2 separate regions of the Homo sapiens genome follow, and region 2 is linked to region 1. Evidence: fine-mapped expression QTL. Tissue or cell type: whole blood. Region 1 holds a variant in brackets; the other region holds the start of a gene. All regions are shown on one strand. Distances are between the middles of the regions.

Region 1 (5,328 bases):
AGAGGTTTAAAATGTGATTTAAAAGTATGGTGTGAGGCTGCAGCTATATAATTTCATGTCATTCTAATTTTTCTCCTTCCCCTTGCAAAAACTCCAGCCCCTTTGAGGCTTATCCTACTCGGATATATCAAGAAGCCCCGTTCCTCCTTGCTGCTGTCACCTACTAATTTCTTAGTATTTCCTCACAATCACAGAAGACTTAGCTGCTGCTTCATTCCAGTACTCACCATTGTTCTTGACAGTTTCAGCATCCCGTGGATGATCCACACAATGTGAGTCCTGAGATTACTGTAATAAATGGAGAAGGCTGTAAATTTTTATTATTAGTGGGCTTTCTGTTTGATAGATTTATTTTATTATGTTAAGAAAGTATCTTTCCATTCTGTATTAACTAAAACTTTTGTCAAAAACAAAAATAAGTAAACTCTATTTTATTAAATGCCTTTTGGCATATGATACCAAGATAATCATATATGGTTGTTGGTGCTCCCTGAGGACCAGTGTTGATGGAACTAATTATGTTAATTGAAATCCTAATATCTAAGCATCCTTGAGTTCATGATGTGATCATTCCTACCCCATCTTAGGGAGGGCAGTTAATAAGTCTTATGTGTTCTAAATTACTCAAAACTGCTTTTCCTTCACTCTCCCTTTATCCCACCCCTCCCTGACCCACCCCCTGTGACAGGCTCCTCCATTAAGAATATGCCTTGTCGGCCCCCAGGGCTCTGGCAAAACTATGTGTGGAAGACAGTTGGCAGAAAAATTAAACATTTTTCACATTCAGTTTGAAGAAGTTCTTCAAGAAAAACTACTACTCAAAACTGAAAAGAAAGTGGGACCTGAATTTGAGGAAGATTCTGAGAACGAGCAAGCTGCCAAACAAGAACTTGAAGAGCTTGCAATTCAGGCCAATGTCAAAGTTGAGGAAGAAAATACAAAAAAGCAGGTAGTAATCTCTTTTTTTGTTTTTTGTTTGTTTTGTTTTTGCTGTTGTTATTGTTGTTGTTTTTGAGACAGGGTCTCCATCTGTCACCCAGACAGGAAGGCAGTGGCACAATCACAGCTCACCAAAGCCTCAACTTCCCTGGGCTCAGGTGATCCTCCTGCCTTGGTGTATTAGTCCATTTTCACACTGCTGACAAAGACATACCGAGACCAGGCAATTTACAAAAGAAAGACATTTAATGGACTTACAATTAGTTCCATGTGGCTGGGGAGGCTTCACAGTCATGGCAGAAGGCAAGGAGGAGCAAATCACATCTTACGTGGATGGCAGCAGGCAAAGAGAGAGCTTGTGCAGGGAAACTCCCCGTTATAAAACCATCAGATTTTGTGAGACTATTCACTATCACAAGAACAGCATGGGAAAGGCCTGCCCCCATGATTCAATTACTTCCCACTGTGTCCCTCCCATAACATGTGGGAATTCAAGATGAGATTTGGGTGAGGTCACAGTCAAACCATATCACTTGGCCTCCCAAGTAGCTGGGACTACAGGTGTGCACTACCATGCCCAGCTAGTTTTGGTATTTTTTGTAGAGATGGGGGTCTTGCTATGTTGCCCAGGCTGGTCTCAAATTCCTGGGCTCAAGCCATTTACCCACCTTGACCTCCCAAAGTGCTGGGATTATAGGCATGAGCCACTGTGCCTGGCAGTACTAATCTATGCAGACAGCTGTGCTTACTGGTGTTAATCTGGGGTAGTGGTAGTATAAAACTCTATAAAGTTTCTAAGAAGAGAAAATAATTAGCCCATAAAAGTCATTTAAAGAGTCATATTCATCATATGCTAAATACAAATCTTCCAGCTCTTCTAGAATATAAAGTACTGAGTTTTATATGACTCCAAAAAAATTCAGAAAAATTTTCCTTGACAAGGCTGTTTTATAGCATTTATTTGGAAGTATGATATTTGGTATATCTGACTTAGACAATAAACTTTTCCATTATTGTGTTCTCTGATTTCTATCAAATAGCATAAAAATCTGCCCCAGCCTTAGTGGAGATCTCAAAATATTAATTTCTAATGATGTCTTACCAGAAAGTTTGTACTGTATTAATCTGTTCTCTCGTTGCTATAAAGAAATACCTGAGATTGGGTAATTTTTAAAGAAAATAGGTTTAACTGGCTCGCAATTCTTCAGGCCATACAGGAAGCATAGTGGCATCTGCTTGGCTTCTGGAGAGGCCTTAGAAAACTTACAATCATGGCAGAAGGTGAAGGGAGAGCAGACACATCACATGGCCAGAGCAGGAGAAAGAGAGTGAGGTGGGAGGTGCCACACACTTTTAAACCACTGGATCTCATGAGCACTCACTCACTACCGTCATGACAGTACCAAGG[G/A]GGTAATGGTGCTGAACCATTCATGAGAAACCACCCCCATGATCCAATCACCTCTCACCAGACCCCACCTCCAGCATTGGGGATTGCAATTCCACATGAGATTTGGGCGGGGAAACAGATCCAAACCGTATTAACCTCTTACATGGCTTCTATCTGGAGTTATACAATGAAAGTTCTTCATTCTAACTCACATTTTAACCATTTCTGATATAGATAGGCCATTTGTTCTCAAATGATCCAAATGCAGTTATATGTAACACTCAAAGTTGAAGCAGGGTTGGATAGTGAGTGACATATGGTGTTCTAATAGGTAATGAAGTACCTGATCAGACATATTCTTTTTTCTTTTTGAGACAGCATCTCCCTCTCTTGCCCAGGCCAGAGTGCAGTGGTGTGATCTCAGCTCACTGCAACCTCTGACTCCTGGGCTCAAGCGATCCTCTCACCTCAGCCTCCTAAGTAGCTGGGACTGCAGGCATGCACCACCATGCCAGGGTAATTTTTGTATTTTTTGTATAGATGGGATTTCATCATGTTGCCCAGGTTGGTCTCAAACTCCAGACTTCAAGTGATCCACTCACCTTGGCCTCCCAAAATGCTGGGATTACAGGCGTGAGCCACCTGTGCCTGGCCTTCAGACATATTCTTTAAATGTTTTTCAGCTATATTTAGTAGCGTTCAGGAGAAACTGATATCCTATTAATTTAAAAAATGTATATCGGGACAGGCACGGTCGCTCACGCCTGTAATCCCAGCACTTTGGGAGGTGGAGGCAGGCAGATCACTTGAGGTCAGGAGTTCAAGACCAGCCTGGCCAACGTGGTGAAACCCCGTCTCTACTAAAAGTACAAAAATTAGCCAGGCGTGGTGACACATGCCTGTAATGCCAGCTACTCAGTAGGCTAAGGCAGGAGAATCACTTGAACCCAGGAGGCGGAGGTTGCAGTGAGCCAAGATCGCACTGCTGTGCTCCAACCTGGGCAACAGAGCAAGACTCCATCTCAAAAAAAGAAAAAAGTATGTCAGTCCAGATTTTTTAACTTAACAAGTCTAGATTTTAAAGTGCAACAAATATCTCCTGCTTGTCTACAGTTTTTTGTTTGGTTTTCTTTTATTGTTTTCTGAATAACTTGTCAGAAAGCAATTAAGGGATTTTATTTTTAGGTAATAAAATTAATCCTGCTTCCCGGTAAGCAGCAGTTTATCATACCTTAGCTATTCAGTTTTAGAATTTTGGATGACAAAAGTACTCAACAAAAATGTTTCATTTTTGTAAGAACTGTTGTTTTTTACTATCCATTCAAGGGTGATCCTACTTTAGAGAGACTTGACCTCAGTTAATTATCACAATGCTTTCTATTTGTTATTACATTATAATCCTCTTCTAGTTTGTATTTCAGATGGCTGCCTGTTTGGCTTATCCCATAATCAGGATCTAGGTTGGAGAGATAATACTGTAAAATTATAATATAAATAACAAAAATCAGTTAAGCCTTATAGGCGTGTGTGTGATAAATTGAAAAAGGTTTAGCAAAAAGTAATGAGATATGACCCCAAGGCCATGTATGAAAATCAATCATATTATTACTTATAATTTATCTTAGCTGTAGTAAATATTATTTACTATAGGTTGGTGCAAAAGTGGTTGTGTTTTTGCCATTACTTTTAAAGCAAAAACCGCAATTACTTTTGTACAACCTGTATTTCTAACCACATTAAATAATTGGTTTATAGAAAATAGCCCAAATTTTTAAATGTTTATAAGCAACACTATAAAAAAAGACCTCAGAGAAAATAACAGGTCTCATTCTAATCAGCTACGTAATACCATATTGTTTATGAATATAGATTTTGGGGTTTTCTAAATTGGTATTTGTACATATTTATGGGGTACCTGTGATATTTTGTTACACACATAGAATGTATAAGGATCAAGTCAGGGTATTTATGATATCCATCACCTTGAGCACTTATCATTGCTATGTGTTGGGAGCATTTCAAGCCCTCTCTTCTAGTTATCCTGAAATACACAATACATTGTTACTAACTATAGTTTCCCTCTGTGCTATTGAACATTAGAACTTACACCTTCTATCTAACTGTATGTTTGTACCCATTATCCTGCCTCTCTTCATGTCCTCTATCCCTACCACACACCCTTCCCTGCCTGTGGTAACTTTCATTCTACTCTCCACCTCCATGAGGTCCTCCTCTTTAACTTTCACATATGAGTGAGAACATGCAATTATTAGCATAGAGTTTTAAAACTTGTTTTGTTTTCTGATTTTTGTTTTTAGCTTCCAGAAGTACAACTTACAGAAGAAGAAGAAGTAATCAAATCAAGTCTAATGGAAAATGAGCCCTTGCCTCCTGAAATTCTTGAAGTAATTCTTTCTGAGTGGTGGCTTAAGGAACCAATACGGTATCTTAATTTATATAGAATTGTACATTTATTTGCTTTTATTTGTTTTATTCTTAAAAGTTAAAAATGTAGTTTAACATACATTTAAGAACTTTCTCCTTTATATTCATGTAAGCTGGTGATTTTTCACTTGAGATACACATTAAAAACATCTGTAGAGTCTTTAAAAATACCGATTGCAGGACCCCACACCAAAATAATTGAATTTGAAACTCTAGGAGTGTGAGCCTGGGATATTTTTCAGTACCCTCAGGTTATTCTAAAGTGCATTTGTGGTAAAACTGTAAAAACCTAAACAAAATAGCTAAATATTATGCACCATTAAAATTTATTGTAGGGCCGGGTGCAGTGGCTCATGCCTGTAATCCCAAAACTTTGGGAGGCCAAGGCGGGTGGATCACCTGAGGTTGGGAGTTCGAGACCAGCCTGACCAACATGGAGAAACTCTGTCTCTACTAAAAATACAAGATTAGCTGGGTGTGGTGGCACATGCCTGTAATCCCAGCTACTCCGGAGGCTTAGGCAGGAGAATCACTTGAACCCGGGAGACAGAGGTTGC
Region 2 (5,176 bases), 150 kb before region 1:
TACTTAGGCAGTTGAGAGGGGTCACAGCTGAGTTCTGGAACACACCTCTATCTCTTTGTGTTAGAGCTCCTTAATCCACATCTATTGAGAGACTACTGTTTGCAAGGCATGACCAGATATGTGCTGTGAGGATCAGCAAGGTTTTGACAGGAAAAGAGGGGGTGTGGCATTAAGAGAATAGAGAACAGCAGAAAAACACAGGGCAGATATAGGGAACTGAAAGCAATACAGTTTTACTGCAGAATAAGGCATATGAAGGCACATGGTTGATCCTCAATAAATGTTTCATTAATTGATATTAAATTAGATGTAAAACTAGATAGACAAGTTGAGGACAAATAATACATGGCTTTGAATGCCAACTAAGGGATTCAGAGTTTACTTGCTTCAGAATTGGGACCACTGAAGATTTCTGAGCAGAAGAGCCCTATAATATGAATTGTGCTTTCTGAACACTAATATCTCACGCAGTCCTCATGAGTGATCAGCTTTTTAATGGGCTGAAATTTGTGTTTTATTTACGGCCAGATGCGGTGGCTCATGCCTGTAATCCCAACACTTTGGGAGGCTGAAGCCAGGAGTTTTAGACCAGCCTGGCCAACATGGAGAATCCCTGTCTTTTATTAAAAACACAAGAATTAGCCGGTCATGGTGTCACATTCCTGTAATCCTAGCTACTTGGGAGGCTGGGGTGCGAGAACTTCTTGAACCTGGGAAGCAGAGGTTGCAGTGAGTGAGCCGAGATAGCACCACTGCACTCCGGCCTGGGTGACAGAGCAAGACTCTGTCTCAAAGGGAAAAAAAAAAAAGTTATTTATGTTTCTAATGAGGGAAATTTAGCAGCATATTTTACAGAAAATAGGTTTCATTTCAATGACAAATGATACTTCTTTATGGGTCTCATTAGAGAACTGAAAATACTTGCAAATACAGTATATTTGATAATGTCATTTTCTGCTCTAGATCTAATCAAAGTTGTCAGCAAAATTAATTTAAGGTCCACAATTCTCTACTCATGTTAACCTGAGGGAGAGGTTATTGTGCTATTAGGACTACGTTATAACTGAGAAACTGTTAAATGCCTTCTCATACTCCTCTAATGGAGACAACCCAAGTTTCAGAGAAACAGTTTATAAAGCACTCTATAACATAGTGAAGAGCATTATGAAAATATCTGGCATATGCAATCTTGTTAGCATGAAATGGGTAATATTAAACACAGTCCCTAATATCACTGTGGCACCCCAATTTAGAAGAGCTATACTGTACCAACTTTGCTTTCCACCCACAGAAAGGACCAAGTATGAAGTTATATAAACACCATTCTCCCTTAATTGAGGAACTGGTAATCGAAATACAAACTGATCTGCTTATTCACTATTTACATGGCCATTCAAAGTAATAAAATTTTAAAAGTAAATGTTATGTTGAAAAAAGTCAAGTGAAAAGCAAGATGTTATCCAAACAAATTATCTGTCTTTAAACAAAGTAAGTTTTCCTTTCCTTTCAAATAAGAAAAAAAGAGAACCAAAAAGTTCACCAATAGAAGTGTAATTCACATGAATCGCAGTGATGGTATACCATGGAATAGGAAAAAATAAGTTACAAGTCATAGTTCAAATTTTTTTCATACCCCTGCCTGTACTGTAACTTGTGAACTCTAGAACTTTAACAGACTTTCTGAAAGCTGAAAAGAATCCAGTAACTCGTACAGAGAACCTCATGAACAGTTCCTGAGGTACCACAAGCACCTGTTTCCAGCGTGTTCCAGCCATGGCTTGTAAGTGGACCTGCAAATGCTGCAATGTCCAGGGTACCAAAATAGGGGAAAGGCGCCCAGGCACAGCTCAAGGGAGCTAGCTTACCCCAAGGCTGTGTTTGACAGGGATTTGGGAACTGGAGAGGAAGGAGGAGGAGGCAGAGTACAGCCTCTGTCCTACGGCCCCACACCCACCGGCAGACATCCATCCTCCCGCCTGCGCCCCGCCGCGAGGGGGTACTCACAGCTCTAGTCTCATACAGAACCAGCTTCTGGACCGAGCTGATGATGGGGGCGGCGGCCGTGGGCATGGCGGCGGCAAATGGGGGCCCCACAACAGGGCACGAGCCTCCGGACCGCCCCAGGAGACTCGGCGAGAAAACCCCTCAGGCCCTGGACATCAAGTCCAGCCAGGAACAACACCCATTAGGCACTAAACCTATAGATGATCAGGTGTTTCCGGATCCCTGCGCCCCGCCTCCAGGCAAGCCCCGCCCCTCACGTCGGGAGCGGGGCTGGAGGACGTATCATAGAGAGGTCGGGTAGAGGCTCCCGGGACCTGCGTGCTGCCGAGAGAGGAAGCGAAGGGCACCATCTTTGGTAAGGATTGGAGGAAAACATGGGCGGAGAAAAAGTCGACGGATTAATTGAGTCTATTTATCTCCTCCCTCTCTTTGGAAAAAAGCGGAAGGTTTGGGATTGGGTAGCTTCTTTTGAAAAGGGTTCTCCGAGTTGCAGGATAGATCCTTGTGTTTTCCCTGCCTGCTGCGGCCCATTTTCCTGGAAGCCGGCCCTCTGACGGTCCTTCACTGAGTGTCAGTTTTCCCCTCACCTCTAATCCATGTTGTACCTACGCTGTGTGGCCCAAGAAATTGTTTTAAAATCACCTAAAGCTGGAAAGTGTGGCTTTGCCACACGTTTGTGCGTGAGGCTAGCCACTTGAAGTTGTCGACAGAGACTAGCGCAGTGTGGCGGAGCCGCGCTTGAAATGAGGTTTCTTCATTTCATGTGTGCGACATAAATGGGCATGCGCGTACCCTCTCTTCCATAGTTGTGAAAATGAGTGTATTATAATTATAAATGCCAAATTAGGTACAAAAGTGACTATTTCGAATTGGAAAAGAAATGACAAAGAACTACAGCCCCGCCTCTCGAGGCCCCGCCCCACCAAGCAGCAGGTGCGTGGCGGCCAGAGGTCTCCCCGGCAACCGCCCGACAGCCCCGCGGAGTCCCTGGAGGCAGTTGCTTCCCTGAGGAGGGTCCGGCTGCGGCCAGGTAAGGAGCCTTCCGGCGGCCCGCTGGGTCGTGGTCCGCCCTGGAGGCATCTTGGTATCTGTTGCACGGAACCCCGCCTCCTGCGGGGACCCCCAGACCAGCTTCTTTTCTTGCAAAACGGTCTCTTTGTAAATCCACTTTTTAAAACCACGTCTCCTTTCAACGACTGAAGTATTTATTCCACAAATATTTACTGAACACCTACTGCAAGAGTATAAGATGTAGGGGAGAGGCAGCTATCCTATCTTAGGCGGCAATTCTAGGTTTCCCAGGAAACCTCTAAACCTCAGAAACCTCTGCTAGAGGGCTTCTCAACTGCTAAGTGTAAGGAAACTTTAAAAAAAAATTATAGAATTATAGCATACCCAGATAACATTCATGTAATACCAAAGATCATATTGTAAATTAAAATTTGAGAAATTACAAAAATTGTAAAGAAATACTTAAGTCTATGTTATTTTGCGCTTCTTTCCCCCTGTAGTTTGGTACTCCTTTTATTAAGAACTAGAAGGATGGCCGTGTCCGTTCTGGCATTTTGGACTTGGATCTTTTAACTGGGAAAAATAGTTAGCTGTGTTCTGTTTCATAATGAAACCAACTCTTCTGAATATTAGTTAAATGTTTGCACAGTGTTTTTATCTAGGATAGCAACTCTTAAAATACCTGAAGGATTCTAGTTTTCAATTATTATAGTTTAGCACTTCCATTTTAACTTTATCTTAGTTTATTTCACCCGGAATCAGATCCTAAGACAAAACTTTGAAGGCAGGTTGTTTATATGAGACGTAATCCCAGGAAACAGCAGCAGGGAGGGGAAGAAAACTAATAAAGGAAATATTACCAGAGAAATTTCTCTGTGGGCTGAATTCACTAGGGAATACTGGGAGGCATGTCTCAGTTATCCCCTCTTGAGGGGCAAGGAAGCTGGAGTATTTATTCGCCAACTTCCATCAGTTATTGGATGAAGCCTGATAGGGCAGAACATTGATGCCCTAGAACTTCCAGTCTACCCTGTGTTCAGGGAGAGTAGGTTCTGGCAGCCAGAGAAAGCCCTTAGGCAAAAAGTCGCACATGCTAACATTTTGGAAGTTGGGCTGGTCGTGCATAGAAAAGGTGTATGTCAAGTGGATATGGGGGAGGCACTAATAGCAGCTGCTACATTCCACCCTTTGCAGCACTCGTATCCATTCTTCCTCCACATCAAGTTCACACCATGCCACCCTAATTCTTTAAGGTAGTGGCTAGTCTCAATTTTTAAAAGAAAAGGACTTACAAAAAAAAAGATTAATGGGACAAGCTGCAGAATCCACTACTGCAATTAATCTGAGGTCTCTAATTGATCATCTCCTTCCTCTAACATCATTCTAGATTTTCCTTACTCTTGGCCAACACTTCTGCTGGTCTGTGTTTGCCCAGTAGGATAACAAGCTTTCATCCCTGAGGAGCATAAGCCCTTGGTTACTGTGTCATTGTAAGGTTTTGGTTGCTGCAATTACCCATTCACTGGACATGAAAGCATCAAGAGCTGTCTCAGAGAATCCCCTGAGTTCAAGAAATGCATCCCCTATCCCACTTATCTAGCAGTTTATGGCCATACCACCCTGAGCACCCCCAATCTCATCCAATCACATAGCAGCAACCCTATCTCCATCTGCCAGTGCAATAACTCCTTATGAGCTTTTGGAGTCAAAAATGACCAGGTGGCAGCAGTAGTTTTAAGATTTAATGAAACCTTTACTGGGTCCCCTGATAGAACCATCTCTCCCCTCCACCAGACCCAGGACCTCTTGTCCAGAAGTGAGGTGCAAATTTCCCAAGTCAATCACTGAGAGTATTAGTGAGAGGGGTCACTCCTACTTCCAGCCCTTGATTCAAAGCATGTTCCTCATCTTGAAGTACATTGTCTCAATCCCACACAATCCCAAGCTAGCGCCTTAGCTGTGCCTTTAAGAGACCATTCCAACATTCTGTCAAACCAGTAGCTTCTAGGTAAAGTGGTATTGTAAAAAGGGTCCTCTGATCCAAGGCAATGGTATATGAGATCTCATGAAGATAAATGAGACATACTCTAAACCTTTAGGTAGTGGTGCTGGCCAAGGCACTGCAGGTAGGAAAAACAAGCCCATATTAGGAGCATTTGTC

Evidence for each region. PIP is the estimated chance that this variant, and not a neighbour inherited with it, causes the effect.
Region 2: it holds the start of FIG4, and the variant in region 1 is fine-mapped to the expression of FIG4 in whole blood (TOPMed, PIP above 0.99).

The regions. Positions count from the first base shown.
Region 1 is chr6:109,541,488-109,546,815 of GRCh38, reverse strand. It overlaps AK9 (adenylate kinase 9), which reads left to right. Exons shown (of 41, transcript NM_001145128.3): 26 at 689-949; 27 at 4,645-4,769. Among named protein-coding and RNA genes, the nearest start is that of ZBTB24-DT, 61 kb to the right of the region's middle. The variant G/A (reference allele first, on the strand shown) is at 2,348.
Region 2 is chr6:109,688,330-109,693,505 of GRCh38, reverse strand. It overlaps FIG4 (FIG4 phosphoinositide 5-phosphatase), which reads right to left and starts at 2,210. Exons shown (of 23, transcript NM_014845.6): 1 at 2,005-2,210. The coding sequence starts at 2,070. AK9 (adenylate kinase 9) reads left to right here and starts at 2,304. Exons shown (of 41, transcript NM_001145128.3): 1 at 2,304-2,359. RefSeq lists an enhancer at 2,257-2,726.